Homo sapiens: one gene and its partner. The protein of the gene in region 1 interacts with the protein of each later gene in a biochemical or structural test. Each region holds a gene or a part of one and is shown in the gene's direction. Other genes may lie near its edges.

The links. The genes of interacting proteins can lie anywhere in the genome.
Region 2: the proteins of TAFA2 (region 1) and KIR3DL1 form a complex in vitro, tested with the Homo sapiens proteins (one study listed by BioGRID).

Annotation. Positions count from the first base shown.
Region 1 is NC_000012.12:61,710,174-61,713,773, reverse strand, and holds part of TAFA2 (chemokine-like protein TAFA-2 precursor), read left to right. Parts: intron 1-3,356; coding exon 3,357-3,368; 3' UTR 3,369-3,600. UniProt on the Homo sapiens protein: Has a role as neurotrophic factor involved in neuronal survival and neurobiological functions.
Region 2 is NC_000019.10:54,819,468-54,823,067, forward strand, and holds part of KIR3DL1 (killer cell immunoglobulin-like receptor 3DL1 isoform 1 precursor), read left to right. Parts: intron 1-245; coding exon 246-545; intron 546-2,097; coding exon 2,098-2,391; intron 2,392-3,600. UniProt on the Homo sapiens protein: Receptor on natural killer (NK) cells for HLA Bw4 allele. Inhibits the activity of NK cells thus preventing cell lysis.

The DNA of each region.
Region 1 (3,600 bases):
CTCATATTTATTTAAAATAAGCATACAAATCATAAAAGGTTGATATTTTTGTTTAATTTTAGGTAATAATTTCATTTGCAAATAGTATTTGGACCTTGCATAGTAAACTTTTTCAACTGGTGATAATGTACCTATATTTAGAATCATTTTCCTATACATTTTTAAACCTTTGGTTTTCCCATCTTGTTTAGTGCAAACCCTGAGGTTGTCAGGGAGGGTGCTGGTAGATATTTATACATGTTCATCCTTATTTTGTGTTGAAAAGGATGAGTCATTAGTTAGGCTTTAATTCCTTCAATGCAGTTCTCTAAACTTTCATGAATGTCTGTTAGTATTGTTCAAAGAAAAACTTTAGCCGAATTAAATTGAGCAAAGAACAATTTGTGAATCATGCAGTCTCCCAAGCAAGAGTAGGCTCAGAGACTCCAGCACAGACACGTTGTGGAAGATTTATAGACGGAAAAAGGAAAGTGACATAGAGAAAACGGAAGTGAGGTATAGAAACAGCCAGATTGGTTACAGCTCAGCATCTGCCTCATTTGAACACAGTTTGAACAGTTGGCCACCTTTGATTGGCCAAAACTCGGTGATTGGTGTAAGAGTGGGCTACATTGTGTTTACACCTCCATTTAGGTTACAGTTTATGATGTACAGAGAAACCTTTAGGCTGAACTTAAAATATGTAAGGAGGAAGCTTTAGGCTAAATTTAATAGTGTGATTCTTTCATTCTACTTTTAGTGGCTCTCTTGTTAAAGATTTATACATTCAAAAGCAAAAAAATCCCTCCTAAAATCCAGACCTTTTATTTTTATAGTTGGTCAGGGTTGACAAAGCTAGGTGTTAAATAACATTATAATACTTGATCTTCATGGCAATACTGCCATTCTGGCCTAAATACAGAGCTCTTGATGCCGAATCACCATGTGTCCTCTTGGTCAAAATCAAATAATCAAAAAAAAAAAATCAAGTATTAGATTGTATACTTTCATCTAATATTAGAAATGATTTATACCATATTCTTCATCTCATATGCTAGGATATTTTTAAAATTAGTAATCCAGGAATATTGTGTAAAACTTAGGTGTGAGAATAGGTTGCTTTAATTATGCTGTAATCCATGTGTGTTTAGACAATTACTTCTTTTAGTCATGTTTAAGTTTTGTTTCTCTAGCAATTATGTTAGCTGATAGAAAGATATCATCATGAAAATGGATGTTTATGATGTTTTTGAGGATATGGGTTATATCCTTATTTATATGTGTTTGTATGTTTATGTGTGTGTATATATCTATGTTTTTTCTCTACAGAAATGGAGAAAAAAATTGTTTTAGTTTTATAAGCCTTTTGTATTATACTTTTAATTTAGATGTCTATTTTCAAAATTATATGAGAGCAAAGTTTTAATATGTAAATAGCTGAGAGGATCATTTCTCAACTTTATATAAACTAGTAGAGTCAAATATTTAGCTTGAAATGAAGATATAGGAATGCATCTATTATACTCACTAATAGATTACTTAGAACCTGAGCTTGAAGTGGATCAAGAGGACGTGTCACTTGCTATCATAGAGTCATGGCACCACATTTATGCAGTTCATTTCCGCCATGTTTCTCCATTTGGCTACACTGAGCAACAGCAGAGGCTAAACCATTTATTCTCTCTCAATTTCCTCTCTCTCTCTTTCTCTCTCAATTTCCTCTCTCCATCTTTTACACACACACATATAGCTTCCCCTCTCTTTTCTTGTCTTTTCAGCATTAGTTTTGAAAATATGGTCCACATTCATACTCAATTTGGGAGCCCTTCACAGAAATTGTATATGATGACTCCTGAATGGCAGGCAGATTGATAGTTGATAATTGATAATGAGATCAATGCTATGCCTAAGATATCTCCTGCTCCCAGAATCTCAAAGATTCAGTAGGCTCTTCATGTGTTTCCAACCCTCCATCCTTGGCACAACTTCTTCCATGGTTCTGTGCATGGGAGTAAAACACTTCAAATATGCAGGCAAAGAACTCCTTCCTTGGGAGTGCTAGCAGACCACTGAGACAGAAATGAGATGACTGTCTCCATGCATGAAAACACTTTTTTGCCTTTTGTACCATCTCCCTTTGGTAGTATAATTTGAGACTAGCCATAGCAAAGTCTAGAACTAGCTTATTATTTTGTTTAATATATTCATTTTTTACATAATTGATCAGAAAACAATGAAACCAAACAGACTTTTGTAATGTTTTTCAAAGGACAAGTAACAATGTCACTTAATAGAATAAAATCAAAATTTTGACAATAATTTTTTAAAATCACTTTTTGTTTTAGCCATTCCTAGAAAAGAACTGTTAGGTAACTCTCTAAATACCCTGCCTGATATTAGAATAGAATTAGAAATTTATTAACACAGCAGAAATCGAGATATTTCTGCTGTGTTGGTAATCTCTTCTCCTCTCCCCTCTTTCTCCCTCTATCCTCTCTCTCTCTCAAAATCTCTTTTCCTCTCCCCTCCTTCTCCCTCTCTCTTCTTCTCCCTCTCCCTGTGTGTTTTCCTCTGTATCTATGCATACGTAGATATGTATGTATATATGTATCAGGTATTCTATCTGTTTATTATTCTTTTTTCCTGTACACAAATGGTCTTTGGACTTTAGTAGGTGTGAAGTTAGTATGAATGTTTTTAGTGATACTTAAAATAGCATTAATAGTATATTCCAATCAATTTTATGAAAATTTTGGGGCACCTTTAACATTTGGTACAACATTTTTCTATTCCTTATTGTTTCTTTCCTCAGATATTTTTGTCCCCCATAAACAGATTTTTTTCAAATATAATTTTTCAAATATAATTTTTCAAATATAATTGACTCAAATAAACCCTCAATTTTTAAACTATTTCAAAAATGAACTTTATGGAACCAATCCCCAAGGGCTTTTTGAGAATATGATGTGACTGTGTTGCTGGGGACAAAGGTCTTTCTTCACTGAGGCCTAGTATGATGTGTTTGTGATATTTGGGTTATGGCTACCAAGCCTGTGCAAAAAAACAAGGATTCCAGAATCACTCTCTGGGTGTGAGAGGGATATTGTTGTCACCAGTTGGGATAATTCTAGTCACAGTTATATTCACTTGGATAATTGTGCAAATGGCTTTAAAAATATTGTGAGATGATAATGAGAAAAAAAGTATATTTTTATATGATGGAAATACCTGCATCTGTTAGTCCTTTAAAATTAAGTAATGCATTTGATATAGCAAACACCAGCATTTTGAGTTATCTATTAATTTTTAATTGTGTTTAGTTTTAAGATTATCGGTATGTTATGAAATGTTGACTATATTTTCTCCTTCCTTTGTAGGTAACCCATTAACCCAGGAGAAATCAAGTGATCCTCAAGGCTGATGACATTGAACATGCGCATAGAAACTTAACTCAACTCCTGAGGTGATCTTGAAGATTTTTATACCACTTGAAAGAGGCGCTCAATAGTCTATTTCCAAGGGATTTCATGGCCTCTTCTTGAAATCAAGACTTTTTAAAAGTCAGACATGAACTTGCATGTCATGAAGATTTCAGCAGATTTGAACTGTGTTCAACTTGTA
Region 2 (3,600 bases), on another chromosome or scaffold:
CCAAGAGATGAGGCTGTCTTCACAGTGGCAAGGGAGTCAGGGGCTACTGGAGACAGAGGGACAGAGAAGAGGGAGGAAGACAGATGGAGGCACCTGCACCAGGGGATATGGGCACAGAAAAGACACGGAGATGCAGAGAGGGAGGAGAGAGACAGACACGGGGAGGGGAACCCTCACTCATTCCAGGTGCCATGGATGGGATGATAAAGAGAGATGCCTTCTAAACTCACAACTTCTCTTTCTAGGAAACCACAGAAAACCTTCCCTCCTGGCCCACCCAGGTCCCCTGGTGAAATCAGGAGAGAGAGTCATCCTGCAATGTTGGTCAGATATCATGTTTGAGCACTTCTTTCTGCACAAAGAGGGGATCTCTAAGGACCCCTCACGCCTCGTTGGACAGATCCATGATGGGGTCTCCAAGGCCAATTTCTCCATCGGTCCCATGATGCTTGCCCTTGCAGGGACCTACAGATGCTACGGTTCTGTTACTCACACCCCCTATCAGTTGTCAGCTCCCAGTGATCCCCTGGACATCGTGGTCACAGGTGAGAGTGTCTAGACATTGTTCTCATTGTCACTGGGACACAGAGTGAATGATCCAGGACTTGGAACCCCCAGGTGGTCATGAGGAAGATAAGTGTGGGATTCTTATGGAAAGAGAGTGACTTGGTGAGGTCTGTACCAACAGAGACAGAGAAACAGGAGACATAAGTACAGAACAGGTGTCATAACAGAGGACAGACACAGGGGCCATACAGGGAGGTAGAAAAGAGAGAAAGAGGTAAAGGAGACACTCAGACAGACAGACATGTCCCAGAGAGAGGTGTCCTTCCATGCTGACTTTGCTCAGAGACCTGGCACAGGTTAGAAGTTTCATTTCTGTTTTACCTCCACAAAGTGTTCCTACCAGAAGAACCCAAGGACACCCATATTTCTGACCTGAGTTGGGCCCTGTGGCCTCAGGCCTTGTGCCACCTACAGATGCCGTGTTTATTCTGACACCTCTGCCTTCCATGCAATGGAGAGTAATCATCCCAGGATATCATGGCCCCTGAACACCAACCCCTGTATGCTGTGTGAACTTGGGGTCCCCAGACTGGATTCTGAGGCTCATATTCCAAATAATCCCACATATGATAGGATCGCTGAGAGACACAGAGAAAAATCAGGGACACCAAAAAGCAAAGACATAAACACACACAAAATGAGCCAGAAGAAGGAGATTAAGAGATTCACAGACACATAAAAAGAAAGAAAAGAGGGCAGAATGGAGAGAATGATGGAAAGGAGGAGAGAAAAGCCCCAAAATCAGAACCCTGAGGGAGGGACACAAAGACAGAGAAAGATAAATATGTGGGGATGGATTGCAGAGATTCCAAATAGAACTAGAGAGACTGAGAGGCAGAGAAAGACAAGGAGACGGAGAGAGAGAGATGATAGATGGATAGATAGACGTAGATAGATGATAAATAGGTAGATGATAGATAATGGATTGGTTATAGATACATAGATGATGACTGATAGATGATACATAGAGATGACGATGATGATGATAGACACATAGATATATACATAGATGATACATAAATAGAGACAGAGAGGCAGACAGAGAGGTAATAGAGAGAGAGATAGATGATACATATATAGATAATAGATGATTGATGGATAGATAGACAGACAGACAATTGATAGAGAGATAGATAAGTGATACATAAATATAGATGATAGATAATTTGTAGATAGACACAAAATAGATAAATAGATAGAAATGTGCAGAAAGTTATGAACAAGACAGAAAGTGAGAGACTCAAAATTAAAGAAAAAGGAAGATCAAGTCAACCAATCCAAGGAGGGTCAGAGAGAATAAAACAATCCAAAAAGGGAAAACATACCTCAGGGTGGGGAAGTGAGGTCATAGACCTAGAGAGACAGAAAAGGTAGAAGGAGGAAACAGATATGAAGAGAGATGGGGTGGAGGGTGAGAGAGAGAGAGAGAGCATTAGGTCATAGAGCAGGGGAGTGAGTTCTCAGCTCAGGTATGAGGGGAGCTATGACAAGGAAGAACCTCCCTGAGGAAACTGCCTCTTCTCCTTCCAGGTCCATATGAGAAACCTTCTCTCTCAGCCCAGCCGGGCCCCAAGGTTCAGGCAGGAGAGAGCGTGACCTTGTCCTGTAGCTCCCGGAGCTCCTATGACATGTACCATCTATCCAGGGAGGGGGGAGCCCATGAACGTAGGCTCCCTGCAGTGCGCAAGGTCAACAGAACATTCCAGGCAGATTTCCCTCTGGGCCCTGCCACCCACGGAGGGACCTACAGATGCTTCGGCTCTTTCCGTCACTCTCCCTACGAGTGGTCAGACCCGAGTGACCCACTGCTTGTTTCTGTCACAGGTGAGAAAAGCCCATATCTCTCTCATGTCCTATGATCCTAAATCCTTAGCTAAGGAGCTTCCTGCTGATGATGGAGAAAAGCATGGACAGATGCAGAGAGAAGACACAGCAGGTGTGAGGGCGGAGTCAGGGCGCAGGATGGCAGACAGGGCACCTCCAAACCCTCCTTCATGGCCTGCATGGAGGCCTCCGATCAGGGCTCCAGGCACCCAGGCAGATGGAGAAAGCGGTCAGGACAGACCCAGAGAAGGGGAGACTGGGCTTAGTTTGGGGAGATCAGAGGTTCCCTCAGCCCCTCAATCTTATCCATTTCCCAGAAGCCCATCATGGCCTCTCACCCACACAGAGAGATATCATCACCAGCAACCCCTACACCCTTTTCTTTTCATTTTCAAAAATATTTATTGAGGTTAAATGTAACTATATAATTTACCACCTTTACCATTTTTAAAAGTAAAATCTAGTGGTCATAAATACCTTTATATGCTGGGTGTGGTGGTTCACGGTTGTAATCTCGGCGCTTTGAGAGGCCAAGGAAGGTGGATCATTTAAGATCAGGAACTCGAGATCACCCTGGCCAACATGTGGGAAATTCATCTTTACTAAACAGACAAGAAAAATTAGCCGAGCATGCTGGCATGCACCTGTAGTCCTAGCTACTTGGGAGGCTGAGGCAGGAGAAGCACTTAAACCCAGGAGGCAGAGGTTGCACTGAGCCGAGATCATGCCACTGCACTGCAGCCTGGGAGACAGAGAGAGACTCTGTTTCTAAATAAATAAATACATCTATATTCTTTTTTTTGTTACCCTCCACCCTTCCCTTCCTGGCCTCTGGTGTCCACCATTGTATTCTCCACCTTCATGAGATCCACCTTTTATCTCCTGCATGTGGGTGAGAAATGGGAATCTTTGTAATGACCTCCAGTTCCATCCATGTGGCTGCAAATGACAGGATGTTATTGTTTCTATGGATGAGTAGTCTCCACTGTGTGTGTGTACCACAGTTCTCTATCCATTCACCCACTGATGGGCAGGTAGGTTGACTCCACATCTTGGCTACTGTGAACAGTGCTGGAACAGTCATATGAGTGCAGATATCACTTCGATACACTGATGTCCTTTCCTTTGGATATAAACCCAGTAGTGAAATTGCTGGACACTATGAAAGTTCTCTTTTTTTTTTTTTCTTTTTTGAGAAAGAGTTTCCCT